Linked DNA regions of Homo sapiens: regions 1, 2, 3, 4, 6 and 7 are each linked to region 5. The links come from fine-mapping of genetic effects on gene expression. A gene starts in region 5. Each other region holds a variant in brackets. All regions are shown on one strand. Distances are between the middles of the regions.

Region 1 (4,066 bases), 52 kb before region 5:
CACTTGGACATCCTGTTGTTCTGACCCAGAGCTGCTGGGGGCTGTCTCACCCAGGGCTGGCAGCATCCCTGAGTACCCCCACCCTACCGCCACCTGCCCATGGCTCTGGCTCACTGGCAGCTCACTTCATCCCTGACCCAATGCTGTCCAGAGTGGAGGCATTCGAAGAGACTCGTCCCACCAATGAGGGACAAGGAGAACTCATCTTGGTAGGTACAATGTGCCTGTGGGAATCCAGGATACCTGCACACCCACTAAGGCTCAGCCTCCTCCTCAATCCAGCCAGGGGGCCTGGGGCTCAGTGTTTCAGTGCCAGATGGTCCCTGAGCCCAGTCCTGATGCTCGCCCATCTACTTAGGAACAGGTTGCTTCTAAGAATGAGACTGTGCTCTGCACATCCAGTGCCGGCTGAGCTCCTTCTCCCAGAGGTTCTATTTTTAGCTAGAACAGGGTCCTAGCCACCACTTGATGCTGCCTTTCTCCAATGGCCTCCCTTCCAGGGCTGGCCTCAGGGTGGGGTTTGCTGATGTATCTCCACTGCCCTCCCTAAGAACCAATCTTGCAGCCTCAAACACCAGCTTCCTCTCCTTCCCCAGAAGGTCTGAGGCTGCCCTGTGGCCACAACCTGCTAAGATTTGAATTTTCAGAATCTCAGCTATTTTTTGTGTGTGCTAATAGAATTCATCCTTTGCCCCTAGAAGTAGCCTGCACCATTCTTGTAAGAAAGCAAACATTGACCCCCAATGTAAATATACAGTGAACAAAATAATTCCCACCCCAACCCCCATTGCTGCTGAAATTCCCCACCAGAGCACCATTCCTTGGGTTATGGTGTTACGCCCTAATTAAAATGAAAATAGTCCTGAGAGGTATTTGAGGCAATTGTATTAGCTAGAAACCATTGTCCTGTGGCAATGAAACTGTCAAATCTCTGATTGGGGAGTTGGGCTGAGCAGGCAGGACAGGCACCAGATCAGCAAGTTTTAATGAGAGAAGGGAAGAGAAAGAGGCCTAATGCCAGGGCTGCTCTAGAGAGGCCCCAGCACCTAGAGCAGGGCTGCCATCCTGGGGGAGTTTAGATAATCCTGGCCAGACAGAACCCTCTGAGCCTGCTGAAGCTGCTGTACCAAGCACAGCATCACCTCTTGTGCAGACTTCAGCTTCCTAGCACATGCGTTGAGAACCTAGCTCTCTCCAGCTTCCAGCCCCCACATCCCTCAGGCAGAGCAGAGATGCAAGGGACAGTGTGAGCCATGGTGCCCCATGTAGTGAAAACAGATGCCTGACACCCCCTGGGTGGTTCAGAAAGCACCAGAGGCACAGCCCCTCAGAGCCACCTGCCCCCTGCTCTTGGTGTGCAGTCAAGCTGGGCTGTGAGGCGGCAGGAGTTAGGGCAGTACATTCTAGTCCTTGTTGGCTGCCCTCTGAACTGTGAACCCGGACATTAAAACACTCAGGGGCCTTTGCCTATTCCTGTGTCCTGCAGCCTCGTTAAAAATCAACCTGCAAATGGACCATCACTCCTGCTCACCACACACCGCAGCCTCCCCAGCCCCCTCCTCTCTGCCCCCTACCAACCAGGCATCCCACCATGGGATCCCACCTTGACTCCCTCTTTTTGCCCTGCACATTTAATTGGTCACTGAGGTCTCTGGTTTTATGTCCTAAATATCTCTCCACCCGCAGCGCCAGGCCCTGAATCATGCCTCCATCTCTCCATCCTTTAATGATCTCTGGTCCACAGTCCTTCCTGGCCCATGCCTGTCACTGCCCTGCTAAAAATCCATCTCTGTCTCTAGTGGCCGTGTTCCTTAACCTTTTTTTTTCTTTTTAAAGCCCTGCTTTTCCAACCAAAACCTAGTCAAATTTAGCCTTTATTACCAAAATGGCAGGTATACTTTTCACATTTTCCAAATATAAAGTGTTAAATCCAAATGGGCTTTGTCAAACCAAATGCACACCCCATGTTAACAATCCAAGCCCATCGATGCCCAGCTGGGAGCTGTGCGTTTTTCTCTCTGCCAGCCCCTTCTCCTTGAGGACAGCTACCCTGTAGGATGAGGCTGAGACTCAGATGACACCTCTATTCCCAGCCCCCTGACCTCTCTGCATTTGCCCTGCTCTCCAGGGGCTATTCCCAGGACCCAAGAGGCACAAAGCAGATTCTTGGTTGGGGCTGGAGTCTGCCAGGAACACCCTCCTCTCTTCACCTCCTCCCTGCATTTCATGTGTCCTCTCCTCTGGCAGCCTGCCCCCTACACCCCCGCCCTGGGCTTTCACATCACTTTTA[C/T]TTGCCTCTTCCATTCCACTTGCAGCCTGGCAGCAACAATCTATTACCGTGAGCTCCTGGCAGGCGGCCTGTGTCTCTGCGTTTCTCTATCCTCCCTGTTGCCATAGGGCCTGGTGCCAGTTAGGTGCTGAACAAATGTTAGTTGAAGGTAAATTGGGAAGAGCTGGGCCAGCTTAATGAAGCAGCCCTGTCCAGCCCTGAGGTCCCAGCAGCAAGTGAGGACTGAGGGGAGCTCACGGTACAGTGTGAGGAGACAGACCCTGAAGGGTAAGGTGCTGAGTGTTCATGGAGGAGTGCATGGCAGGTGCCTCAGTGCCCAAATCACCTCTTGTCTTGGTATATAACTGAGTGGCTGGCCCCTCAGCCACCCTTCTTGCCTAATTTGAGACAGAACCCAGCAACAGATTGCAACTCTTACATTAACAAATCCGACATTAATTATGGGGAGACAGAGAGGAAGGTAATATTACATACCATGCATCACACACAACAACCTCCTTGGCTCTCCCATGTTCAGCCCTGCTCTCTTCTCTGTCTCTCTCACCTCCTCCCTTGAGCACCCCCTCACCTCCCTCAGCTGGGACCCTCCTCTCTGCACAGAGGAACCCAGGAGCTCCCTCTAGGCCTGGCAAGCTCACTTCCTCACACCTCTGCAGCCCCTCAGCAGAGTCCCTGCTTGGGATTCGCCCTGGTAGGAGGGCAGCTGGAGACTACACATCATGAGACACGCTTCCTGTCACCAAGCATCTTCTTCCCTGTCCCACTGAAGACCAAGTACATGTAACCACTGGAGTATGAAATCACATTTCTATGGATCGTTCCTTGTGGCTATAAGAGAAACAAAAGGTCTACAAGGGGAGTAATAGATGCCCGAGTTGTCTGACTTTTTGTTAAAATCGGCTTAAGCTTCATGTGCCCTAAGCAGAGGCAGGCGCCATCTCCTGCCACTTCAGTGGGGGAGTCTCCAGACAGGAACAGACAGTCTGTGTGGCTCAGCACCCAGAGCTCAAAGTGGAAAGACGCAAGCTGCCACTTCCCAGGTGCTCCCCAACAGCCATGGCCATGGGTCCCTCAGCAGTCCTGGCCTCTGAAAGCCCCAGGCCCCGGCCCCACGGATCAGCTCCCCACAAGGACGGCATAGCATTTGCTCCAGGACTTAGGCTAGAAGTCAGAAGCCAGACTTACCGATCCCTAAATGAGACTCCCACAAGTGAGAGAGGAGATGGTCAGGGCTGAGCTGCTGCTACTTTTACAGAATAAATGAAGACAGTTGAATAAGGGACTGGACCGCACCCTGCCTGATGTGTTCAGATAAAGAGAAGGCTCATGCCTCTGGTGGGTGGGATTATGGGGAAAGCTTATCATCATTTTTTCAAATGCTTCTGAATTTTACAAAGTTCTAGATTAGGTATTAACTGCTGTGATCATTTAAGCCAAAAATAGTTGAAAAGAAGAAAGAGAGAAAGAGGCAGGACAGCGATGGTAAAGTCTATGTCCATCTCCAGACACCCCCTTAGTTGGAAGAATCCTTTAACTCCTTCACTGCTGCAGACCCCATAAGTACTTATTTCTGGGCATCCCTGGTGCAAACATTCCTAGTGAAGTCCAGTGAATTTTAAAAGTCCTCCAGCAAACGACCTCAAACCTAATAGTTGGTAGGCAACGTTTTTCTGTTCTTCTATCCAGGAATTGGATTGTTGTGGCATGAATGGACTGAGTATTCTTTCTTACAGACTTGGAATCATTCCCATACCCTCTAACTAAATAAACAGTTAT
Region 2 (4,066 bases), 110 kb before region 5:
GGCTCAGTGGGTGCGATGCATGAGATACTTAAACAACACCTGCCACATATGTGTGGATACTCAAGGAATACTGAGCTTCCACAGTAGTTTTTGAATAAAGAGGAGCCAAAGGCTCTCTTTCCTCTTTTCTCTCTTCCTTTTTCCCCACCTAGTCTCTCCATTCTCCTTTCACCCCTTGGGGTGACTTCTTAGCCCTCTCCAAGATTCTCACTCTGGCCTGACACCCTCTTCCATTCCAGCCTATAGATCTGCCGCTGCTGCTGCCCTGCAGGGCCGTCCACATGTGTGTTTGTGCAATGCTCCTCCCCTATCCCAACCCACCTAAACTGAGCTTCCTCCACAGAGCTGTTTCAAATCCACATGGCCATTTCCTTTTCAGGAGAGTCTAGTATTTTATAACCGCCCTTCCCAAATCAGAACACAAGTAGACACATGTTCAGCTTTCCGTGTGTGAGAAATGGCCTCAAGGGTACAATTTTCTTGCGTGGTCCATGTTTCCACAGGGCCCCCTTTCTGACTTCTCCCCTGGGAGCCAGGAGAGCTGAGGAGCCGACAGAGATGGGGCACACACACTGGGAAGCCAAGCACGTTAGATTTACTAGGGTCATGTCTGCAGGTGAGGTAACAGCACACACATACAGAAATTCACGGGCAGAGATGCCACCGCAGCATCACCGTCAGACACCAAAGCAGCAGGAGGGCTCAGGAAGTGGCTTTGGAAAGTTCTCGTGAAAATCAAAGGGCAGCTTTGGTGCTCAGAGATTCAAACAGAAAACTATACAAAACCAACCCATAAATATATATATATATATAATATGTGTATATATATAAAATTGCAAAATAAAAGCCCAAGAAACTAACCACCGATCTGCACGTCAGTGGCTCAAAAAGTGTTAGCATAGAGAAAGGCAAAACCATCTGTGGGGGTGATGCATACTCAAGGGGGCCGGCATTTCAGTAGCAGAAAGAGTATTTACATGGAACCCCTATTTGAAACCTCACAATACTAGGAAAAGCTAAACACAGACAATGTATGTACAAGGGAAGACAGTAAGTACTCTTGCGTGACGATTGTCAGACACAGACATTTCACTGAAACCATCCATAGCTTTAGAGAACACTGCATTCTATCTAGACTGGGTTCCTGCTTGCCTGCACCCCAGCCAGGCGATCTCAGGCTCTGGACCGTATGTTCTCCCCCACCTGGCCTCTTCCCGGAGAGAGCAAACACTAAGATGTTGGTTGCAGCATAAATTGCAGGAATTTAAAGGTGGGGCAGTCCTTGGGTATCAATCAATCACCCACAAAGCAGGACCAACAGGTGTGAGGTGGAGTGGAAGTGTGGGGGTGGGGTTCCCTGAAATATATTCCCATTTTATAATGTGTTTCAAGTGTGGCCACTCTGCCCTTGGTCCAATTGCCATCCTCCTTCTGATTCACGTTAAAAGGGGAGATCTGGCCTTTGGGTTTTTAAACATTATACAAGATAATTTGCTGGGGGAGAGAAGAGTTTAGGGTCTTTCTACAGTTATTCTCCCACCACCCCCCAAACTCTTACGTTTTCTTTAAACTACCTAGAGATAAGCAATTTGCCGATCACAGCTGGCCTCAGTTCGGGACACAGTGGGTGAGGAGAGGAGCCCAGGACCTGACTCTACTAGAAAACTGCCAGTGCTTTCTCACACTGAGCCTCAGACTCCAGCTCTGCCTGAACCCCTTCCCTGCACCAATAATGATCATTTCTCCCCCATCTGCAGGCCCCAATTTCCCATAGCAATGACCCAACTTTTGGGAAAATCTAGAAGGTAAGTGGCACCAAACATCAATATAGCCAAACCTAATATCACCTAAGTATGAACCAATGCGACCCATTGTTTCTGTATACATAAGAACACTCCCAGCTGGAGATTCTTCCTAATTGTTCCTAAGATGAAAAGCCTACATTCTCAAGGGAATTGTCTCTATAAAAATGATGAAAGGTGTTCTCCACTAAGGGACACCCCACTGAAGTCCCCACACTGCTTCC[C/T]GGTGAGCGTGGCTGCTCATTGTGAGAGGTAAAGGGATGTTGGGCATTCCTTGGTGACCGAGCTCTACGTGTGGTCTCTCATTTATGACAGAAAGTGTGCCACATCTGAATAGGTTGGTTAGACGGGGCTTCTGGAAGTAATTACACTCCATGTACGCTTTCTTATGTTATGGTGCAAGTGGAAATGTGCACAGATAACCAATGTGCACATTTCATGAGTTTACAGTCACTACAGGCCTCTTACTTCTTGCATTAAACTATCCCTTTCAGAACAGATGTGAAACAGATGATAGGCTGCCTCACTGGCTTTTAGATTGTAGGGTGCCCTGTCCTTTCTGTGGGAGTGGAGAGCTTAAATTTAGCCTCTCCCTCATTTCTTTTCAGACTCTTTGAGTGCTAAGGTCTTAGAGTTCAACTGAGCTCCAGTGATGAGAGAGAATGTAAAAAGACCTGTTTCCTCTATGCTCAGTCAACTGCGACTGTGCCAACCAACTCTAGGGCTTCTGCTGACCTGCATGTGTAAAATGAGTAAGGGGTAAATGTTCTCTCATTTGTTCACTAGTCAAGAACTGATTACCCTTGTCCCAAAACTAGAACATAAAATTCACACAAAAGAAAAAACGTGTCAGCTGGCACAGTGGCTCATTCCTGTAATCCCAGCACTTTGGGAAGCCGAGGCAGGTGGATCACGAGGTCAGGAGTTCAAGACCAGCCTGGCCAACATGGTGAAACCCCGTCTCTACTAAAAATACAAAAATTAGCTGGGCAAGGTGGCGGGCTCCTGTAATTCCAGCTACTTGGGAGGCTGAGACAGAAGAATCGCTTGAAAAACCGGGAGGCAGAGGTTGCAGTGAGCTAAGATTGCACCACTGCACTCCAGCCTGGGCAACAAAGAGCAAAGCTCCGTCTAAAAAAAAAAAAAAAAAAAAAAAAAAAGAAAGAAAAAGAAAAAACATGTCATGCAGACCTATGCGTAGGCTGTGTGTTTACCCTCCACATACCTTCATGGAAAAATTGAAAATTATTTTTAGACTTTCAGAGGCGAATCATGCTGTTGGGCAAATGGTTCTTTCAAATCCATGGCAATCAAAGAAGTGGATTTATAGCATTTTCCCCCACACTAGCAGTAGCCCTGCTACAACAATGCCAAACATCTGAATGACTGTCTTGCCATGTCACCATGAGCAAGTGACGGTATCATCCACAGGGAATGGGATTCAAATTCAGTCTACATGGATCAGTGGCAGAGGGCAGTGCTTTACAGTGGGGTTCTTACTGTAAGAACTTACTGCTCTTCATCCAATTTCCCCCAAGTCCTTTAAAAAGAACTTATCTGTTCACAGAGGAAGAACCCTGTTTTAGTTATAGGAGAGTGGAGGGGGTCAACTGGCCAAAGTAGGACAGTTACTTGGGTTGCATGCAGGCCAGGAGGCTCTTAGGGAGTCCAGATCTGGGCTAGAAGGTGTCTCTTTCTGCAGTTTGGGAGGAAGGTCACATGGTATGGACGGTTCTCTCACACCACTGTTGGGTGCAGCCAACACTACGCAAGGAGCCGTTGGAGCCAAGCCTGTCTCTGCGAAACCACTAATCCTTCTTGTCCTCTCTCCTCCTGCCTGCCTTGCGATGGAAATAAGCTCAGAAACCTCTCCACTTCCCAGCTCAGCCAGCCACAGAGCAGCACATTGGTTCAAATGTTACCCTTTTCTCTGGCACATCCAAGCACAGTAGCTCAACCAGACATGAACCTACTGCCCACCAAATCTGAGCTCTTGAATACACATTTTCTCCAGTCAGATATTGGTCAAAGTTTTCAGCCAACTTTTATCCACAGCCAAAGAAAATGGCCTTTCCTTTCTAATAGCCTGTAGATTTGTTTGGACCACATGTCTGTTTCTGTAGCATTTGGTGCATGTCCTCAAGCCTGGAGCTAAATGTGCCACATTCTGTGCAAGGGAAGAAGAAATGGCAGGATGGCTGGACACCTCTCCCAGCAATTCTACACCAAGACAAAATAAAACTGGAAACATTAGCTCTTTGAAT
Region 3 (4,066 bases), 25 kb before region 5:
TGTGCTAATTCTTCTTTTCCTTGACGTCAGAATAAAGCTTCCCTGCCTATGCAGATTTAAGAACTACCCAAAACATGTTTTTGGTTAAGAAAGTGCTATTTCTGAGCTAGTTATTTTTTAGAGAGTAAAACCCATTTGTGTCTGCTCACATGAAAATGTATAATCAAGTACATTACCAGAGAAAATATTCACTGGGCCCAGTGACACACCAGAAACAGCTCAGCTACATCTGCTTGGAATCAGCTCTTGACAAGGCAGAACTAAGTTGTAGGTGTTCTTAGCTAACTTTTAATATTTATACATATTATTTATTTTAGATGAAGTGAAATCATTTCCCTTAAAAAAAGAAATGGACTGCTGGTTGAAGAACAGGAATTCTAAAAGAAAATATGACGATATCTGCAATCAAAGTGATGGAGCTCAAGGTGAAACATCAAGTCAGGCTCAACTGGTACCTATTGATTCTTCAACTCTTGTTGCCTATAGAACAACAGTGAATGAAATAAGAGGAATGCCGCAAAGAAAACAAAGTACTGTAGCCATTATCTGTCTTTGGGGCTGACCTTTTAGGGCAATACAATCCACTCAAGTCCTTGATGTGCTCTGTATGTATAAATCTGGCAAAAGAGTTCTATGTTCCCTGCCATAGAACACCATTTGAACAGCACCTAGGGAGCCTACAAATGAGGTCCCTGGCTATACTTACATACATCTTAATGTTATGTTTTTTTAAGTTATGTGATATTTAAGTTTGTCAATGTATGTTTAACTTTGCCCATGAGGGAAAAATATACACTCTCTTTGAAAATCTTATTAAATCCTATCCTATGGATCCTATGTTACAGATGTGTTAAGTGAGAATCTTGCTTCAAAAATATTAGTACTGCTGTTGCATAGCACAGTCCACTCAAGAATCCAAGACTGTATTTAATGAATTAGCTAAGGAGGTCAAAATTATCACAGCAAAGTCACATCTTATGATAGACTGGTCAGCGTCCATAGCCTGTCAGTACGGTCAATATTGGCTGGAGTCAAAATTATCATTGAACATCTCCTCAGTGGACATGAGGAATAGGGCATGGCTCTCCATGTATCACCCCACACAGTACTGTGCATGTGTAATTGGATAATACATACAGTAGCATATGACTCATAAAAGGACATGTGCAAAATATAATTTGGTTGTATTTTTACTCCACTTCTCTGAGAGCTGGATTACCATGAAAGAAATGTGAGCATAAGGCACCTCTGGTCGAAAGGAAAAGTTCAGCATTTCACAGAGGAAGAGGCAGCGTCTTATGGCTGTCTCCTCTCTCCAGGCTGCTTTGTATGTTACCACCAGTCAGGTAATTTATTAGGGACAATATCTGCTTCAAAACACTTAACAGTGGGAGAAGAAGAGAAGAAAATGCTCTTTCTTCTCAACAAGTGTGTAACATTTCAAAGAAGTTTGTAAAATTCTGAAATACTTGCCAGGTCTATTTAAAAATAAATCTGGTTTGAAAAACCTAGAGTAGAGGCTTCCTGGAAGCTGTGGCTATACTGTATTTAAAGTCATCAAGTCTTGTAAGGAAAAACAAGAGTCAACAATGAAATAGGAAGAAAAAAGTGTTCCAGGCCAGATTACTATAGCAGGTACAAAGGTCCTGTGGTAGATCAGAGCATACAGAGCATGAGGAATTAAAGGAAGGCCAGTGTGGCCAGAGCAGAGCTGAGAAGCCTAGAGGGGACAGCAGGGATGACACATGGCAGCCAAATCATGCTAGGTCATAGCCATCCAGTCAGCCATTTACTCATTTGTTCATCAATCAAATACTTATCTTCTATGTGTCAGACACTGTTCCTGGTGCCAGGGGAAATACAGGAGTAAACAGGCCAGGTAAGGAGCTTATTTTTAGTGTTTACATCCTAAATGGATAATACATCCTACACTCTTAAAACTCAGAGTAATAAGAACTATGACAAGAATTAAAATAGGGCAACATAGTCACCATTTGGTAA[C/A]CACCATGGAAATAATTGGAATTGGCAAAATTTGAATAAACCCTATAGATTAGATAGTAGGATTGTACCAATGTTAATTGCCTGGTTTATGAAAGGTTTGTCGATGTTAATTGTCTAGTTTACAATTACCAAAAATTGTATTGGGCAATTATGTAACAGAATGTCTTTGTTTTCAGGAAACACACATTGAAGTATTTATTATAGCATGATATCTGCACTTCATTCAAACGGTTCTGAACTAAATTGTGTGTTATGTGTTTGTATAGCTGTATGTGTGGACAATACATACAGACATGCTGGGACAGGGAGAAAAAGGGAAAATGACCTCTGAAGAGGTGGAAGGCTGAGATATAAATGACATGAAAGGGCATTCCTAGTGCAGGGAACAGCTAATGTAAGGCTCGAAAGCTAGACAGCATTTGATGAGTTGAAGGAGCTGAAAGAAGTCCATTGTGGCTGAAGCTGAGTGGCAAAGGGTAAGGTCTATGAGATTCGAGCACAGAGGAATTCTGCCTTTTTTCTAAGAATAATGGGAAACATTAATGGGCTTTAAATGGAGGATAGCAAGGTCCCATTTTCATATTGAATGCTCACACTGAAAAATAGAATAGGGGATGGGTCACTAGTGGGCGTGTGGGGGTCAGTTAGAGGCAGCAGCAGATGTTCAGGTGGGGAAGACCGGGCTTGGAATCAGGGCCTGGGGGAGCTGGAGAACAGTGGATAGGCTTCGGATGTTTAGGAGACAAAAACAAACAAAACAAAACACAGGACTTGGTGGTGACTTGAATGTACCTCTAATTGTCTTCTTTCGAGCATTGGATCAGTTAATGGAACTGAACTTAAGATTTCAAGGTGAACGGCCGGGCACGGTGGCTCACGATTGTAATCCCAGCACTTTGGGAGGCCGAGGCGGGCGGATCTTGAGGTCAGGAGATCGAGACCATCCTGGCTAACATGGTGAAACCCCGTCTCTACTAAAAATACAAAAAATTAGCCGGGCGTGGTGGCGGGCGCCTGTAGTCCCAACTACTCGGGAAGCTGAGGCAGGAGAATGGTGTGAACCCGGAGGGCGGAGCTTGCAGTGGGCCGAGATCATGCCACTGCACTCCAGCCTGGGCGACAGAGCGATACTCCGTCTCAAAATAAAAAAAAAAGAAGATTTCAAGGTGAACTATTAAAGTACCCCAACCCCATTCTTGCTGTAGGGTTGTTGTTGTTGTTTTTGTTTCTTATTCCCACACTCCTTTCTGGACAGTACCACAAAGTACAGAATCAGAGGAGAGGGAACAAGTTAAGATGTGAGAGGAGGGCTTCAGAGTGTGAACATTGTACTTAGATGTGAAGGGGTTGGTCTCTTCCTGAGATGCAGGCCGCCTCTCTGAGGTTCACAGTGTTTCTAACATCCCCACACAAAACAGAAAAATGGCACGTGCTGGGAAAGCAGGAGGGGCAGGAGATCTCCATCCAAAGCCAGACTATAGCCTCACCAAAAACCCTCCCAGGAGAGCAGCTAGGAACAGTAGATTGCTTGCCCCTCTTTCCTGAGAAAGCACAGCAGATGCTTTTTATATAATGTCCAATTACTCCAAGGAATGTCACCATCTTTATGATTAATGAGTTTATATACTCAGGGACATATGTGAGGTGGTATCCAAGGACAACAAAAGACCCTGCAGAGAGGAGATAAATTGAGTCCAACCCCTGTAGCCAACAGTTAGAGAAACAGATTAATTGTATGTATTACATAAATATCACTCAATGTAAGTTATTGTCAAAATAAGGACTGTTTTTATCTAAATTCACTGTGAAACAAATCTATTTTGAAAACCTACAGGTTATGGAAATGACAGGGAAAAGTTGTAAATAATAGATATCCCTTTTTCAGAACTCAATAATGAGCTAGTGAGACTGTCGTTATGATAATGACTTGTAAAATAGCACCCAATAAATAAAATACCTTTTGTGATTAAAGGGATTCTTCCAAGAAGGAATCGAACCAAGCAAGAATATTCCAACTTGCTTTGTAAGGCCCAGCTCAAATGTCAACCCCTTTGTGAGATTTTCT
Region 4 (4,066 bases), 120 kb after region 5:
ACTGTGGTTTAGAGAAGAAATTGTTTCTTAAAGGACAATTCCTATTTCTTTCTTCAGCCTCAAGAGTCAGAAAGCAAGACAATTAGTATTTTTAAATAAGGAAATGTAAACTAGTTTTCAGTAAAACATAATTTACAACAATAATGATTATGTAATCATGCCTCTATTAATACAGCAACCGTTTAAAATAATGCAAATGCACAATAACCAGGCTGTCTGTTTCCAATTTCCTTGGACTGGATGGCGAGAATCCCACTTTCCTGGACTTTTCCACCCACATTTATGATCCCTCGCAGCGTATAACCACTACGTACCTCTCCAAACCCAACAAACTTTGCAGCCTGCGCAGACAAAGGTTTCTATGTTTCTCTCTCCATTTCTACTTGGCAAACCCCTGCCTGGGGCTGTACTCGGGAGTCACCTTCACTTCCTTGCTAAGTCAGGTGAAGCCTTACCTGACTTTCTCCAGGCTGGGGAAAGAACCCCCACACCCCTCACCCACTCCCCGGCTCCCATTGCCTCTTCTTTCCTCTCCCTACCGTGCTGCCCACTTTGCGCGGTAATTTTTGCTCCAAGGGCCTGCCTCCCAGAGGCTTGGGGTGCAGGGAAAGTGCTCTAAGGGTGGGACTGATTTAGTCTGGACATTCCTGACCGGTAGCACCACGCCCATAATGACCCGAAAATAAATGCCTGCGTAAATTGCTTTGGGAAGCGGTTGGGCAATTTATTAAGAGTAGTGAAAATGTCCCCTTCCTGCTGAAACAGTAAGAATCTTGAAGAAATAATCCTCCCCAAAGGAGAAAACTATATACACGAAGATTTTAGGTTGTGTATTATTTTCATACAGAAAAACTGGACACGGAAGAATATCAAGTAATTGAACGGTTAAGTAAATTACACAGTAACATAATAGAGCATTACTCGGCCATTGAAAAGTATACTTATGAGGATCATAGCACATAGCAAATACTGAAGTGTGGCCTCAAGTAGAAAAGACTGAATACAAAACTACATGTTCACCAGGACTAACATTATGCAAAATAAAGATGCACATTTAAAAAAAAAAAAAAAAAAGACTGAGTCTTTTAGGGGTAGCACGGGGATATTTTTCCTGCTTTCAATTCTATTATTGCTGTTCTAGCCATGCGAACAGTGCACAGAGGTTGGAAGTGGCGTCAAGAGGAGTCTTACCATTGTGTATATGACTGTAAAACTGAGAAAAAGAAGGTAATATCAGCCTGGGGAATGCATTTCTAATGGCGGGACTTCCTGCACCTTGACCTGCCAGTCGGGGTTGTGGCCCGGCAGTGGCATTCCCAGGGGGTCTCAGAACAAAACGACGGCCACAGAGTCCACCTGGACAAAAGGGCAGGGAAGGGGCCCCTCGCCCTTGACCCTTGGGCTCTGCTCCGGCCACCCTGAGCCGAAGGCTGTTTGGGTGAATGCGTGGGGTTTCTCCGGCGATCGATCCCTTTGGACTGGCTTCCCCACTAGCAACCTGCGCGTCCCCACCAGAACCAGCCGGCTGGCCGAGCGAAAGCCCGGTTTCGGGAGACCTTGCGGGGAGAGCAGCTGGCCCTCGCCCACCGGGCCGCGCTTTGTCTAGGGCGCGAGTCCGCCCGTTTCCGGCCCCGCCCCTCGCCCTGGTCCCAGTCCGCCCCTCCCCCTACCCGGCTTCCGCGTCTCCGCTCCCGCGCTGCCGGCTTCCGCGGCTTCCCCCACTTCTCAGCCTGCTTCTCTCTCCCCTCTCCTTCCTTTCCTGTCCTTTCACACTCGCGCCCCAGCCCCCGTCACCATCTACCCCAAGGACTTGCAAACTTCGCCCCTGAGGAGCGGACTCTTCGGTTCTCCGTGGAAAATCAACCAGACCCAAAACAGAGGTCCCGGGTTTGGGGATACCACGCCGCGCGCCTGAGCATCCGGGCTCCATTTCTCCAGGCGACATCTGCGGGAAGGGAGACCTAAAGGCCAAGGCTGGGGACGAGAGGCAGGTGCCTGGAGTAGTGGACGGTGGAAATGGCGACGGCGGCCTGCACCCAGCGATCCCGAAAGTGCCCATGTATCCGTCCATCTGGGTTTTTTTTTTTCTTAGATCATCCACCAAGGCCGGGGTTTCCGAGTGAGGCGCCCACTTCGCATCCCACAGTACCGCCAGGTGTGTTTCCCATGAGCTCT[T/G]TAAGAGAGAACCCAAGAGCTCTTTAAGAGAGAACCCAAATAATGTGTGAATACCTTCTCCAATAACTTCAAGTCAGAGGCTCAGACACACACACACACACACACACACACACCCCTAAAACATATTTATTTCGTGGAAGAGCGTGTATCCCTCGGCTGTCCTTCCAGCTCTCCCTTGGTGCGTGTGCAGGACGCACAGAAGGGTGGAGTGTGGGTTGCGATTATTTTTACACAGAAGGTGTCACACTCTGGGATCTGTTCCGCAGGGAGGCCACAGGTGCCAGGAGACGCGGGAGAGACTGGCTCCTGCCAAGAACATTTCTTTGCATTGTTCAGTGCGGTTTTTTATTTTTATTTTTGACTGTTTGTTTGCCTAAGAGATGACTTCCCTTGCCAGAAAAAAAAAAGTGTTGTAAAAATAAAAGGAAACGGGATTACGATGTAAAAGACGAATAGATAAACCCGGTTCCGCAGATCTGCGGCGCGCGCGCCTGGCGACCTCGGATACATTCATTGAAGTTGCCGCGCACTCGTACCCGGGTTCACCTCGCCCCTCGCTCATTCCTCCCGACCAAGGCCCATGGTCAGAGGTGTCCTCGCCCCGCGGCCGTCAGAGGGCGCGGCCTACACTCGAATGCCGGCCGAGCCCTCCACGCGCTCGGAACTTGGGCTTCCCGGTGCAGCCTCCCCGCGATCGCAATGCCCGCTGCCTTTCCCGAGCCCAGTCCGGAACCCGCCTCTCTCGGGGACCTTGACCTCGCGCGGACCTCGTCGCCTTGCTTAGCTCTCCCTGACCTGCTTTTGAACCCGCTAATCCCGTCCCGAACTCTCGCCCCGCGGCAATCCCTCGCCCCGGCCCTGGCGCGCTAATTCCCGCTGACCCCGCCGCCCCGCCGCCTCTCTCCGCTCGCGCGGCTGTGACCAGGATAAGGGCTTCCCGCCTCTGAGTGCAGGTGTGATCTGGAGCTCAGGCAACTACTGCCCCCGCATTGTCCCCAGCCCGCGCTCGCACCCCCAGGACCCAAGCAAAGCGTCTCTTGCCTCAAACATTCTGCCCTTCTCTTGCTTCCTCTTGTTTCCCTAGCATAATTCATGTCTTTCTTTAAGAAACCCATCGGACCCACAAAGATCAAAATCTTCGGTAACACACCAAACTGGCGACGCTGTGGGGAAGCAAGCACTCTCCCAAGTGGCTGGCGCGCAGTGAGGGCGCAGGAAAGGTAAGCAGGAGACCCGCCGCTAGGAGCCAGAGCCAGGCCGGCGAGGCGGGCAGGCAGGAAGAACCGCGGACAGGGCGACTTGATCTCATTTTTAAAACCGGAGAGTGAGATGGGACGAGAGCTTGAGCTTCTAGGGATGGGGCTGAGATTCTGGAGAGACACCTGGTAGTCATTTCTTAATCTTTTGTGCTGCTTAGAATTTTTTCTTAGATGCATGTTTTCCTTTTAAAAGAAAAAGAAAAAAAAGAAAAGGCAGAGCGGGGTGGCTCACACCTGTAATCCCAACAGTTTAGGAGACCAAGGAGGGAGAAGCCCTAGCGGCCAGGAGTTCCAGATCAGCCTGGGCAACATAACGAGACCCTCGTCTCTGCAAAAAAATAAAAAATAAAAAATTAGGCGAGTGTGGTGGTGCCTGCCTGTTGTCCTAGCTACTCAGGAGGTTGAGGCAGGAGGATAGCTTGTGCTTAGGAGTAGAAGGTTGTAGTGAGCCGTGATCGTGTCACTGCAACCAGCATGGGCGACAGAGTGAGACCTTGTCTCTTAAAAAAAAAATAGTAAAAGTCATTATTTTAAAAGTTGATGAAATTAGTTCACACTACACACATTTACAAACACAGGTCACACACACACACAAACACCTCCAAGGCAAGGGTCTGCACATTTGTTTGGGG
Region 5 (4,066 bases):
AGCAGTTGCTTGCACCCTCTCCAATCCCTTTGCTTCTGCCAGGATGCCAGACCAACCACTCCTTTTGGGTTACTCGGGAAGCACGAAATGTGCATTTAGGAAACTGAGATTTGATTTCTATTATCGATAAAGCTCATCTGAGTCAGTTGAATCTTAGACGACAAACAGCAAGAGGGAAGAGTGGGTGTAAGGAAACAGATGGGTATTAATCATGTGTCAGAGATAAATGACAGTTTTTTAAAGAATTTGATAGGGTGTGGGCTGGAGCTTGCTTTTTTATTTTCTATTTCTATTTCCTATTTTCTATTTTTAGTTTTGGGCAAGAGATGGAGATTAGGGGTGAGAAAAGGAAGGAAGAGAAAAGGCAAGACAATAGGCCAGACCCGAGAGCCTGATCTGCATCCTAAAGCAGTCTGCCCCTCCCTCCCTTCCCCCCAACACCAGGTAGGCTGTGGTGTGATTTAAAAATAAGCAGACACCGACTCCCGCCTCCGGGACCGGGGATGGCCTCCGCCCCGGCTGCAGAAAGGGAGGGGAGGCAGGGAGAGGAGAGGGAAGATGGAAGAAACAGACTGGCAAGACCCCCTCGGGTACAGTGGGATTTTTCCCTCCAAAGTGGTGGAGCCGCATAAAATCAAAACCCACGAGGCCCGCTCACGTGCCGGTTGCCCCGATCTCAATGTAGGCGGCTGCCGACGCCGCACCTGCTCGGCCGGCCACTGCGGCTGAGCGCCGCGCAGCCAGCGATCGCGAGGCCCCGGGGGACGCGCCCAGCCCCGCCAAGCCCGCCTCGCACCGCTACCCCGGAGGGCGGCGGCCGAGCGGGAAGGAAAGAGAGGGGAGGGGAGGGAGGGGAGGGGAGGAGCGGCCCCGCCCGGCTAGGCGAGGCGAGGCTTGCCGCCCCTCCATTCGGACCCAAAAGAAAGCCCCACCTGTCAGGCGTTACGCTCCGGGCGAGGGTCCCACCATCCCCAAGCAGGGGCCAGTGCTTGCAGCCCCGATTTCCTAAGAGCCTCGGATGCTACATCATCACCAGAAACCTTTAGGCGCAAAACACACCGCTGCCGGCCAGGGCTGCAGCACCGACGCGCTCGGCAACAGACGCGCCCCACCTGGGCCAAGCGGCTCCCGCCCGGCCGAGGGATGCCAGGGTCTCCGCGCCAGGAGACCAGCGACCCCAGGCAGCCCACCAGGCCCGCTCCCCAGACCCTTACCTCCTGCGCGGCATCTTAGCTATCTCCGGTCGGCCACTGCGGGTTGGTTTTGTTATTTTATGGGTTTGGGGGGTGGGGTGCGCTTAAAAAATCCACCCAGCTAATCTGCAGGGCAGCGTTTTCTGCCCATGCTGCAGCCCGCGCTCGTCAGAGCTGCTGGGAGATCCCCCAGCAGTGCAGCGGCTCCGCGGCGGCGGGGATGACTGGCCACCGACGCCGCAGTTCCTTGACAAAAGGCTCGGGTTCCCGCTAGTCCCTCACAGCCCTGCCGTCAGAATTAAAGCCATTTCCCGCACGAGGCTGGGAGGAAATGAGAGCTCTCCTGGCCCTGCGCGCTGACAAAAGGCCGCTGCGCGGTGCCCACAGCGCCCCCTCCAGCAGGCCGCGCCGGCCGCCCGAGGGCCGCGGTGCTGCAGTGCCCCCGCCCGCAGCGCCCCCCACCGCCCCGCAGCGGCCTCGCCCCGCAGCACCCCCACTACCGCCCCGCAGCGCCCCCCTCCTCCCCGCAGCGCCCCCGCCCGCGCCGCCGCAGACCCCCCTAGCCAGGCTTCCAGCCCCCTTCCACCCCCGCCCCGCACCACTCACTACCCGGGATGGCCAGAGCTAAGCAGGGGAGTCTGTTACTAGGGAGAAAATCTGAAACAGAGCTCCCTTGGGGGAATGTATTCTCCCTGGAAGGAAGAAAGCAAAAGTCTTAGACTTGGAATATTTCTTTTCGTCTGGAAAGGACAGCTAGCCTTCGGAAGATAATTCTATTAGTGATTTTAATAGCAATTGTTTGACTGAATTCCAAACCAAAATTCTCCCTGTCCTGATTCTCACTCCTTTTCAACCAGGACAACATTTTTGTTGTGGCCCTGCCCTTGGGGGCTGTGGACCCAACGCTCTCCAACTCTCACTACATTCTCCTCTCACTCCTTTCCTTCCTCAGGTCTCCCGCCCCAGAAGGAACAGGTGTGTAGTGAGTGGGGAACTGGATAGGGAACCAGAATACTTCGGTTGCCGTCTCAGAGCTGCTCTTAACTAGCTGTGAGACCTTAATCAACCCACTTAACCTCTCTGGGCCTCGTTGTCTTCCTCTGTAAAATGACAGTGTACCTAAGGCACCTCCCATTTCCAATACTTTCAAGGCCTGGCCCTCAGAGAGTAGGGGTGTTAAGAGATAGCTCTGGACTTTTCACCCCCATAATCTCCACCAGTCCCCAAAACTCCCCTCAATCAACATCCTCTCCAAGGGCTTTTGAAAATGTGCTTGTGAAAATGTACAGCTTCCAGAAAAGCCTCTGGCCACTGATCTGAAACCTGATCATGGCCCCTCTGCCCTTCCAGGTTCTGGGGCACCACAGCCCTCAGACACCCCCACAAAAGTCACTGGCCCCCACCACAGTGCTGCTGTGGAACCAGAATCTCTGGAGGTAGGCTCAGGATTGGTAATTTTAACAAGCAGCCCTAGTGATTCCTTTGCACACTAACACTTTAGAAACACCACTCTGAGAGCTACTACTGATTTAGAAAAGAAAATGCTAACGACAACCCTAGATGCCAGGATAAACTTGTCTTTCTGCTTCAGCCCCCCTTCCAAGAAACATACATGCATACCTGGTCCCTGCACCCTCCTTCCACACTCAGAGCTTCTCACTCATTCTCATTCAGAATCACCGAGTCCACAAGACTTCTCCCCATTCTCCTGTCAAAACCTGCTAGAAGAATTACAACAGGCTCAGCCACACAAGATGAAACCCCTTCCCCTCCCCACCCCAGGACCTAGGTCTGTCTGGTCAAAGAAGCCAGGACGTGTTATGTTTATTGAGTCATTCCTGGCAGCCATAGCTCTTTTGGTGCTAATGGGTGATGAGATCTGAGAAACAGGGAACCCCTTCTCCAGAGCTCAGAAGTCACAGGTAAGGTGGGCTCTATATCTTAATAGAACCCCCAAAAAGAATGGAGAATTTTTGTTAGAAATAGCAGGTTTCATAAGTCACCCCAGTCATTTCCATCCCCCAAAATTTCTCTTCCTAGTGTGTTATTTTGTTTTCTCACATGAATCCTAGCAAACCCTTGTTGGTTCCTGGCACTGTTCTGAGAGCTTTACATGCATTTTCACATAATCCTTGCAAAAACTCTGTGAGGGTGGTACTATTATCATCCCCATTTTATAGATGAAGAGACTGAGGCACAGGGATGTTAAGTCGCTTGCCCTAGGTCACACAGCTAGTGGGTGGCTGAGCAATGAATCAAACTCAAGTGCTGTGGCTCCAGAGTTTGTGGGCCCTAACCACTACACTGCATGGCCTCCCAGAGGGGACAATAAACTTTTTTTTTTTCTTTTGAGACAGAGTCTCATGCTGCCCCCCAGGCTGGAGTGCAGTGGCATGATCTCAGCTCACTGCAACTTCCTCTCCCCAGGTTTAAGCGATTCTCCTGCCTCAGCCTCCCGAGTAGCCGGGATTACAGGCACGCACCACCACACCCAGCTAATTTTTGTATTTTTAGTAGATATGGGTTTTCACCATGTTGGCCAGGCTGGTCTGGAACTCCTGACCTCAGGTGATCTGCCCGTCTCAGCCTCCCAAAGTGCTGGGATTACAGGCGTGAGCCACCACGCCTGGCCAAAAATAAACTTTTTAAAGCAGAGCTGGTACAAGACACTGAAAGGCTGATAAGACTAATACATTCTCCTTCCCCCCGGCAAAAAAAAAAATGATTCTGCTCCCCTAGTCATCACAGGAGATACATATATATATTTATGTTTATATATGTATATATTATATATATTACATATACACAATATATATTATATATATTACATATATTTTTATATATATATGTCCGGCCTCTCCCAGGGTCTATCT
Region 6 (4,066 bases), 210 kb after region 5:
AGCTCTTTTCTGGGACTATCCCACTGGTTCTAATTCTTTTACCCAATAGAGGCTTTAACCTCAGGAGTTTTTACTAGTCAAGCTTCAGTTGAAAGTGACAGAAGCTCAATCTAAACTAGCTTAAGCTTCAAGAGGATCCTGGGGTGGTTTAGAGAATAGATGAGGAGCATCTGGCCTTGGGCACTGGCCCTGGAGTGTACAGACAGTGCCTCTCTAGGTTCTCCCCCAACTGCTCCCTGATGGACCTGCTCCCCTCAGCCTTCCATCTCCCTTGCCTGGAGCTGTAGAACCAGTTAATCTGGAGCCACACCCTTACCATCACCTTCCAAAGAAGAAATTGAACCCTTCTCTGGGCATTTTCTGCTGTCTGCCCTTCTCATGGTCCAGCTTCTGTTGTTCCACCAGGCGTTATCTGTTTGCCCAGCTGCATGGCTGTGACCAAGGGTCTTTAGGATAACACATTCTCTCCCCCCGGGGACTCTGCTAGTTTCCTGTTTCTTCCTCCCTTACTCTATTGACCCTTCTCCCTCAAAATCACCTGCAGCCTCTTGCCTCCCTGACTGAGGCAGAAAGGCCTTAAAGTGGTTCTCAACCCTGGCTACACACGAGAATCACCTGGAGAACTTTACAAATACCAATGCCCAGGCCCCAAACCAGATGAATTAATCAGAATCTGTAGGGGTAAGACCCCTGCATTGGTGTTTGTACAGCCAGGGTTGCAAAACACTGGTATAGAGATGTAAGATACCCCAGTTCAAGATAGTGAGGATGAACTTGGAGAGGTACTGAGATGCTCTCTCCAACCCCACCACATACACAGGGTCCTGTTGTAATTATTAGAATCCTAACACCCCAGAAGCAACAATAGCCCAGGAAATCTTCAAACTGTATCCCTGAAAAGCACTGTCACTTTATCTCAACTTGAAGCCAGTTGCTAAGGCCCTACCTGGGGCAGATAGCCAGCATGATTTGCTAGTTTTGAAGGTGTTTGCCAGGTATGCTGAGTCCTGGCTACTGGGGTTGGCAGACAAGTGCGCTCTCAGAAGACAGTACCCTGGAAAGGGAGAAACGTGATTCTGGGTGGATAATCTGTATTCTTGTCCCTCTCTGCAGGTCACTGTGGTCTTAGGGGACCTTCTGTCCTTTTCTTAGGGGAAATACCTGGAACGCTGGGGTACAGAGGAGAGACCATGGTAGGGGTGGAGTGATGTAGTCAGATATGCCCAGAGTTGACCCTGGAGCCACAGGAGCCTTCTGATAAACTTGGGGTCATTCCTGTTGAGAAGGGATGAGAATGTGGATGGCTCAGTAAGACAACACTGATTCAAGCAACAGTTATTGCTTAGCTACTCTATATTCTAAAAAGTCAAAAGGCAAACTGAGGAAAATATTGACAACAAATATAACATACATAAAGGGTCACTATGCTAATAAGTTTTACAGATCAGTAAGAAACACATTAAGGCCCTCAAAGAACCATGTGAGTAAAAGAATTCCTAGAAGACAAAACCACTGATAATTAAATGTTTAACCCTTGTTGGTAATCAAAGAGCCACATTAGAACATCATTTCCACTACCAAATTAGTGAACATTTACTTAAAATCCTAATATCTGATGCTAGCAATGGTTTGAATAGTTCTTCTTTGAGTAATAGCAGATTCACAGGTAGTGCTTCTCTG[C/T]TAGCACTGTTCTCATTGTTTGCATTCCTTCATTCCTTGTAAAGTAGGTGCTATTATCCCCATTTTGCTGCTGTAGCAACTTGTAGGGACCAGCCCCACAGGGTGGGTGGGTTTTTCTCCCCGTGTGCGGAGATGAGAGATTGTAGAAATAAAGACACAAGACAAAGAGATAAAAGAAAAGACAGCTGGGCCCGGGGGACCACTACCACCAAGAGGGCAGAGATCGGTAGTGGCCCCGAATGCCTGGCTGTGCTGTTATTTATTGGATACAAGGCAAAAGGGGCAGGGTAAGGAGTGTGAGTCATCTCCAATGATTGATAAGGTCACGTGAGTCACGTGTCCACCGGACAGGGGGCCCTTCCCTGCTTGGCAGCCGAGGTGGGTGGGGGTGGGGGCGGGGACAGGGGGAGGGAGAGAGAGAGAGAGAGAGAGGACAGCTTACGCCATTATTTCTGTGTATCAGAGACTTTTAGTACTTTCACTAATTTTGCTACTGCTATCTAGAAGGCAGAGCCAGATGTACAGGATGGAACATGAAAGTGAAACAGGAGTGTGACCGCTGAAGTACAGCGTCACAGGGAGATGTTTAGGCCTCCAGATAACTGTGGGCGGGCCTGACTGATGTCAAGCCCTCCACAAAAGGTGGTGGAGTAAAGTCTTCTCTAAACTCCCCCTGGGAAAGGGAGACTCCCTTTCCCGGTCTGCTAAGTAGCGGGTGCTTTTCCTTTGCATTGATGCTACCGCTAGACCACGGTCCGCCAGACCAGGGTCCGCCAGACCACGGTCCACTTGGTAACCGGCGTCTTCCCAGACGCTGGCATTACCGCTAGATCAAGGAGCCCTCTGGTGGCCCTGTCCGGACATAACAGAAGGCTCGCACTCTTGTCTTCTGGTCACTTCTCACTATGTCCCTTTGGTTCCTATCTCTCTATGGCCTGGTTTTTCCTAGGTTATGATTATAGAGCGAGGATTATTACAATATTGGAATAAAGAGTAATTGCTACAAACTAATGATTAACGATATTCATATATAATCACGTCTATGATCTAGATCTAGATCTAGTATAACTCTTGTTGTTTTGTATATTTTATTATACTGGAACAGCTTGTGCCCTCGGTCTCTTGCCTTGGCACCTGGGTGGCTTGCCGCCCACAGAAACTAAGTCAGATAACTTGCCAAAAGCCACACTGCTGATGTGCAGCGCACCCGCTTCACTGCAGGTGGAAGTGGAAGTGAATAATAACCTTCCTGGAAGGCAGTCTGCAAGCCCATATTGACAGCTGAAAAATATTCATTCCCTTTCACCTAGTGATTCGACTCCCAGGAATCCATTCTAAGAAAACAACCAGAGTTGAGCCATTTCGTTCTTGGCAGCACATGTGAAACAATGGCACATCCATTATGACGCTGGGCTCTGGTTGCGTCATAATGTACGTTTAGTATGTGGAGTGACAATGGGCGCTAGCTCGTAATATAATGCTATTAATAAACGAAAAGAGATACAAAAAATAGTCATGATATGCATATATATTGCAATAAACCATGATTTCTGTGCGTGGTGGGATGGTAATTTTTAATTTCCACATTGAATATTTCTGTTTTCTACTTATTAGTTTGATAATCGGAAACAAAAGCCAAGTGTCTTTGTTGTTTGTGTGTTTGATGCTGAGTTTCCCGGGCAGCAGGACTGGGAGGTTGAGTGGGGGTTTTGGCTCAGACCGGGAGCAGAGCGGCGGGTGGGGAGCGGCAGGCGGGCAGGGTCCCCGGAGGCCCCCGGGCTCTGCCCCTCCAGCTAGAGAGGCAGCCGAACCCTAGCGGCCTGGAAGGGGCCGGGAAACCGCGGCCAGCTGGCAAGGAGTGGCCCCCGGGGGCGGGGCGCCGGCGGGTGTGTGAGTAGCCCGCCCGGCCCGGGTCCGAGTTCCAGCCCCGCGATGGCCTCCGCGGGCAGCACCGCTCGGCGGGCGGGCTCCGGAAGCTGGCACTCAGAAAGGGGAGAAGGGAGAGGTGCTCGGCCGCAGCCAACTCCAAGTGGCTCCATGCAGCAGGCGAACAAAGTCTCCTTGAAGGCCACCTGGACTGACGCGGAGTCCAAGCAGCCCAGGTGGGTAGCGGGAGAAGGTGTCCCGGCTGCAGGGAGCGAGAACCCGGCCCAGCGCCTCCCTGGTGGGCAGGGCCTGGAGCGGGCGGGGGCGGAGGCTGCGGCCCGAGAAGCCAGCAGAGACAGGCTGGGGCCAGGGATCGCCTCCCGAGAGGTGCCTAGGCCGTGGCCCAGAGTCGCTTCCCCACTGCCCCGCCCACCAGCCAGGCGGGGGCCAGGGATCGCCTCCCGAGAGGTGCCCGGGCCGTGGCCCAGAGTCGCTTCCCCACTGCCCCGCCCTCCAGCCA
Region 7 (4,066 bases), 64 kb before region 5:
AATAGGAAAATAGGCAAAGGATGTAAAAAGGCAATTTACTATAAAAAGAAAGTCAGGGGCGGGCACGGTGGCTCACGTCTGTAATGCTAACACTTTGGGAGACCGGGGTGGGTGGATCACTTGAACCCAGAAGTGCCAAACCAGCCTGGGCAACATGGTGAAACCCTGTCTCCACAAAAAATACAAAAATTAGCCAGGCATGTGGTGCGTGCCCGTGGTCCCAGCTACTTGGCAGGCTGAAGTGGGAGGATTGCTTGAGCCTGGAAGGTTGCAGTGGGCTGAGATTGCACCACTACACTCTAGCCTGGGCAACAGAGTGAGATTCTGCGTGAAAGAAAGGAAAGAAAAGAAAAAGGAAAGGAAGAAGAAAAGAAAAGAAAGAAAAGAAAAAGGAAAGGAAAGGAAGAAGAAAAGAAAACGAAAGAAAGAGAAAGAGAGAAAGAGAAAGAGAGAGAGAAAGGAAGAAAATCATGTCCAATATGTATGTGAAAATACATTAATATATCCAACCTCATCAGTAGTCAAACAAATGCACATTAAAACACAAATAAAGTATTATTTGTCACCTACTGAATCAGGAGGATGAAACAAATGGTAGTATACACTATGGACCAGGGTAGAGGAAATGGGCACTCTACCGCATTACTGTTGGGAACGTAAATTGGATCCATTTGGAGAAAGGATGTAATCTGCCATTCTGCATTAAAGTCTTTAAAACATGCATGCATGTACTTCAATTCAGCAATTCTACTAGTAATTTATCTTAAGAAAATAATCACGGATATAATCTCAGGTTTATTTACAAGGATGTTTATTGCATTGTTCCTAACAGAAAAAGTTGGAAATAACCTAAAAGTCCAACAATGGGAAATTTATTAAATAGCATGTATCCACCAAAAATTATATTATAGAACCATATTTTATGTGATTACATTTGTGTTTGCATAATCTATATATGTTAAGAAAAAAAGGACTGGAAGGATATATGTTCACCAAAATATTAAGAATAGTAATATGAGGGCTTTAAGAACACAGTAGAATGATTTCTGCTTCCCTTTCTTGGTTATTTTCACAGTTTTCAGCCATAATCCTGTAATAATCTTATTGAGGGGGAGTTATTTTTTGATGCTTGTGTTTTAAACGTTATGGGCAGAGCATAACAGCCCAGGAGGGTGGCTTCCTGCATAGCCCTGGCTGGCTCCTCTCAGCCCTCATCTGTGGAGTCAGGTTGGCCTGTCTAGTGGGGCATGGAAACACAGGCTTCAGTGGTCTCTTCCCGTCCACTGAAGTCACCTCCACCCTCTTATTCCTGGCATTGGGGTAATTTTTCTGTGGACGTTTAATTTGCAGCAACATCAGAAGCAGAGCCAGGTACCTCTCTGGCTGCTGCTGAGCTCCCCAAGGCCTGATAACACAATGGGCTGCTTACTCCATAGCCTGGCAACCAGATGCTTCTTGCTGCTCCTCCCTCTCTTCCCCACCCCACCCTCCCCTCCACCTCTGCTCCTGGCAGCTCCCCAGACACCACATACTCATGGAAGATGTCGGGAAGACTGCGTGGGAGGTGCTGGCCATGAAGTCCGCGATCTGTCGCAGGGCCCAGATGTTGGAGGAGTTGTTCCCCTTCTTCATCTGCTCCTGGATGAGGCCTTCCAGCTCCTCCCTGAAAGACTGAAGCAGGCCCCGAGGTGCTTGTCCCCCCACAGCCTCTCACACAGCTGCCCAACAATGAGCTCTTCCAAGTGCCCACCCCTTGCCCCTGGGTCAGCTAGGTCAGGGCCATGCTCAGGGTCCCCAGCTACAGGGGACACTGAGCAGTTCCACTAGGACCTCAGGAATTGCTGTATGGGAAGCAACAAAGAAATGCTGGGAATGGATCTTGTGTTCCCTTGCCCTGTGGGCAGTAATCCAGATTCCAGGTCCTTTCTGTGTCTAAATGAGGGCCAAGACCCCTCCCCACCATCAGACATGGTAGGACTTCACTTTAGTAATGAAGGACATTTTTTTAGGCAGAACTGAATGGAGAGAGCCACCATCCCTCTCCATTAGCGATGCCTGTGATTCTTTCGGGCTTCAGTTTCCTCATGTGCTTAATGAAAGGGTAGGAGGAAGAACAGGAAGATTTGATGACCTCTGAGGTCACTTCCACTCCTGATGTCCAACTCTAAGCCTGGCTTTTCAGACCATGAAGCCATAAGCAAGGAATCCTGCCCACCAGGTGGCAGGAGAAAACACTCAGGAGGAAATGGGGGGCCACTTAGGTGTGTTGGCCAACCTGTAAAAGGGAAGAAGGAAGCAGGCCCTCCTCCAACCCCTATTTACTGCCTGAGCCCTGAAATCTGGGCTGGTGCTAACTCTGCCGCCTCTCCTAACCCCCTTGCCACCCCTCCTAGTCACACTCTGGGGGTTTTCCCAGAGGCTCTTCACCCCAATG[C/T]TTTCAGCATCTGCCATATTCCTCCCAGCTCCCCAACACAATATCTGGGCACAGATATTGGACCTCGGCCCATTCCCTGGAGCTGCTCTGTGTGGCCTGAGTATGCACCATGGCTCCCAGCCAGGGTCTCACACAGCCCCTGCACAGGCCCTGGCTCTCTGGAGCCCAGAAGGCCAAGGCAGAGCGGCTCCCATCTCGAGCCCATCCTGGCAAGCAATTGGAGATGCCAACTCTGTCCCTGGGCTTCCCGATCCTTAGGATCATGGGCTGATTCCTGAGGCCCCCCAAGCTCTTCCTCAGTCAGACCCCTCTTGCCTCCACCACAGTGATCTCCCTCTGCCTTCAGTGGTCCACAGGGCCCACCCTTCGGCCTTCTCAAGGCACTACCTGCCTCAAGGAGGAGCTGTGTCCATGCCAGGCAGGAACCAACTGGCCCCAAGTAAGGAGGGATGTGAGTGATCCCGACTTGCCTTCCCTTCCCACACCCCATCCCACAGCCCGGCTGAGCCCTCCACTCTGCCCACCTCCTGGGGCTTCCAGGCTCTCCTCAGCCCCATCCCATTCATGTCAAAGCTTCATTTGTCCCGACAGAAAGTTCTTACTTTGTGGTGTTCAGTAAAGGGAGCCCCAAGCCCTCCTCCTGGCACCCTGCTGGTCTCTAGTTTACATGGATTTGTCCGTTCACTGTCATAGCTTTTGGTGAGGAGGGAAGACTGGGAACTGAGGCTCCGAAGGGGCACAGGAAACTGAGGGGGACTCCTGTCTCCGTCCCACCTCCCCCCGCACCAAGCCAAACTGCCACACACAAGCCAGGTTCTGCCATCCACCAGTTACAAGGGAGAGTGTCAAGGCCCCAGGTGACCAGATCCGTCTTGCTCAGTGGGCTTACATTTCTACTGACCCTGAGCAAGGGAAAGAGGAGTTACTCATCTTTCGGGTGGGTACACGTCCTGAAGAGCCAGCGCCCCCTGCGCCCTCTCCCGCCCGGGTCAGCCCCACTCACGGGACTCTGCAGGATCATGGTGACGCGCTTCTTCTGCTCCATCAGGTTGAAGTCCTGCCGCAGGTCCGCCGCCCGGTTGCGAAGGCGCATGTACTCGGGGTCGTCCTCTGAGAAGCGGTCAAAGTAAGGCTGCCCCTGCGGGGGCGGCGGCGAGGCAGCCTCGGGGACCGTCTCTTCGCTCATTTTCCCGGTGGGTTTGCAATTCGCTCCTGGAACTCTACAGAGAAGGGGAGAGGGTATGCGGTCAGGTTGGTGCTCCCCATCGGGGTACACGTTTCTCAGAGCACAGGGCTAGGTTCAGTTGGATTCTCAGTGGGGTACGGCTGTTCCTAGGATGGTAGAGGCAGAGCCTGGGGAGGAGGGCAGGACGCCAGCAGCGGCCCCATATACCCATCTATAGGGGCGCTGCTGTGCCATGAGACTAAGTAAAAACATGGGTTCAGGTGTCCACTCCCTTCCCCAACTAGCCAGCCCTTAAATGGTCACACTTGGCTTGGAGTAGAGAGTTCCCCGAATGGAAACATGACCTGCAGACCTTGTTGAGCATTTCTGTGATGCACACCTATGCAGTGGTAAGCTACTTACTGGAAATCAGTACTTCATCTAAAATGGAAACCCTCTAATAAGGC

Direction of the effects. Positions count from the first base shown, and alleles are read on the strand shown. Sizes are in standard deviations (SD) of each study's normalised expression. Not every link is listed here.
With allele T in place of C in region 1, the expression in stomach of the gene that starts at base 1,529 in region 5 is higher (small effect, 0.31 SD a copy in GTEx).
In carriers of allele C in region 7, the expression in esophagus mucosa of the gene that starts at base 1,529 in region 5 tends to be lower than with T alone (small effect, 0.34 SD a copy in GTEx).

Evidence for each region.
Region 1: its variant is fine-mapped to the expression of ADD2 in stomach (GTEx, PIP 0.98).
Region 2: its variant is fine-mapped to the expression of ADD2 in whole blood (TOPMed, PIP above 0.99).
Region 3: its variant is fine-mapped to the expression of ADD2 in whole blood (TOPMed, PIP above 0.99).
Region 4: its variant is fine-mapped to the expression of ADD2 in tibial nerve (GTEx, PIP 0.92).
Region 6: its variant is fine-mapped to the expression of ADD2 in whole blood (Lepik 2017, PIP 0.95).
Region 7: its variant is fine-mapped to the expression of ADD2 in esophagus mucosa (GTEx, PIP 0.96).

What each region holds. Positions count from the first base shown.
Region 1 is chr2:70,714,207-70,718,272 of GRCh38, forward strand. All of the region lies in intron 1 of ADD2 (adducin 2), which reads right to left. Among named protein-coding and RNA genes, the nearest start is that of ADD2, 52 kb to the right of the region's middle. RefSeq lists an enhancer at 1-128. The variant C/T (reference allele first, on the strand shown) is at 2,291.
Region 2 is chr2:70,656,211-70,660,276 of GRCh38, forward strand. ADD2 (adducin 2) reads right to left here. Exons shown (of 16, transcript NM_001617.4): 16 at 574-4,066. Among named protein-coding and RNA genes, the nearest start is that of TGFA, 100 kb to the left of the region's middle. The variant C/T (reference allele first, on the strand shown) is at 2,027.
Region 3 is chr2:70,742,146-70,746,211 of GRCh38, forward strand. The region is part of intron 1 of ADD2 (adducin 2); the gene reads right to left. Among named protein-coding and RNA genes, the nearest start is that of ADD2, 24 kb to the right of the region's middle. RefSeq lists an enhancer at 2,484-2,985. The variant C/A (reference allele first, on the strand shown) is at 2,002.
Region 4 is chr2:70,886,194-70,890,259 of GRCh38, forward strand. It overlaps LINC01143 (long intergenic non-protein coding RNA 1143), which reads left to right and starts at 1,678. Exons shown (of 4, transcript NR_126384.1): 1 at 1,678-1,987; 2 at 2,093-2,155; 3 at 3,283-3,395; 4 at 3,628-3,791. RefSeq lists an enhancer at 1,535-2,185. The variant T/G (reference allele first, on the strand shown) is at 2,176.
Region 5 is chr2:70,766,672-70,770,737 of GRCh38, forward strand. ADD2 (adducin 2) reads right to left here and starts at 1,529. Exons shown (of 16, transcript NM_001617.4): 1 at 1,215-1,529. RefSeq lists enhancers at 664-1,229, 1,230-1,795, 2,205-2,769.
Region 6 is chr2:70,975,034-70,979,099 of GRCh38, forward strand. It overlaps ANKRD53 (ankyrin repeat domain 53), which reads left to right and starts at 3,597. Exons shown (of 6, transcript NM_001115116.2): 1 at 3,597-3,782; 2 at 4,064-4,066. The coding sequence starts at 3,613. It overlaps LOC105374795 (a long non-coding RNA gene), which reads right to left. Exons shown (of 2, transcript XR_001739534.2): 2 at 1-1,275. RefSeq lists an enhancer at 2,227-2,496 and silencers at 3,524-3,613, 3,974-4,033. The variant C/T (reference allele first, on the strand shown) is at 1,681.
Region 7 is chr2:70,702,789-70,706,854 of GRCh38, forward strand. ADD2 (adducin 2) reads right to left here. Exons shown (of 16, transcript NM_001617.4): 3 at 3,438-3,654; 4 at 1,533-1,671. The coding sequence starts at 3,620. Among named protein-coding and RNA genes, the nearest start is that of ADD2, 63 kb to the right of the region's middle. The variant C/T (reference allele first, on the strand shown) is at 2,435.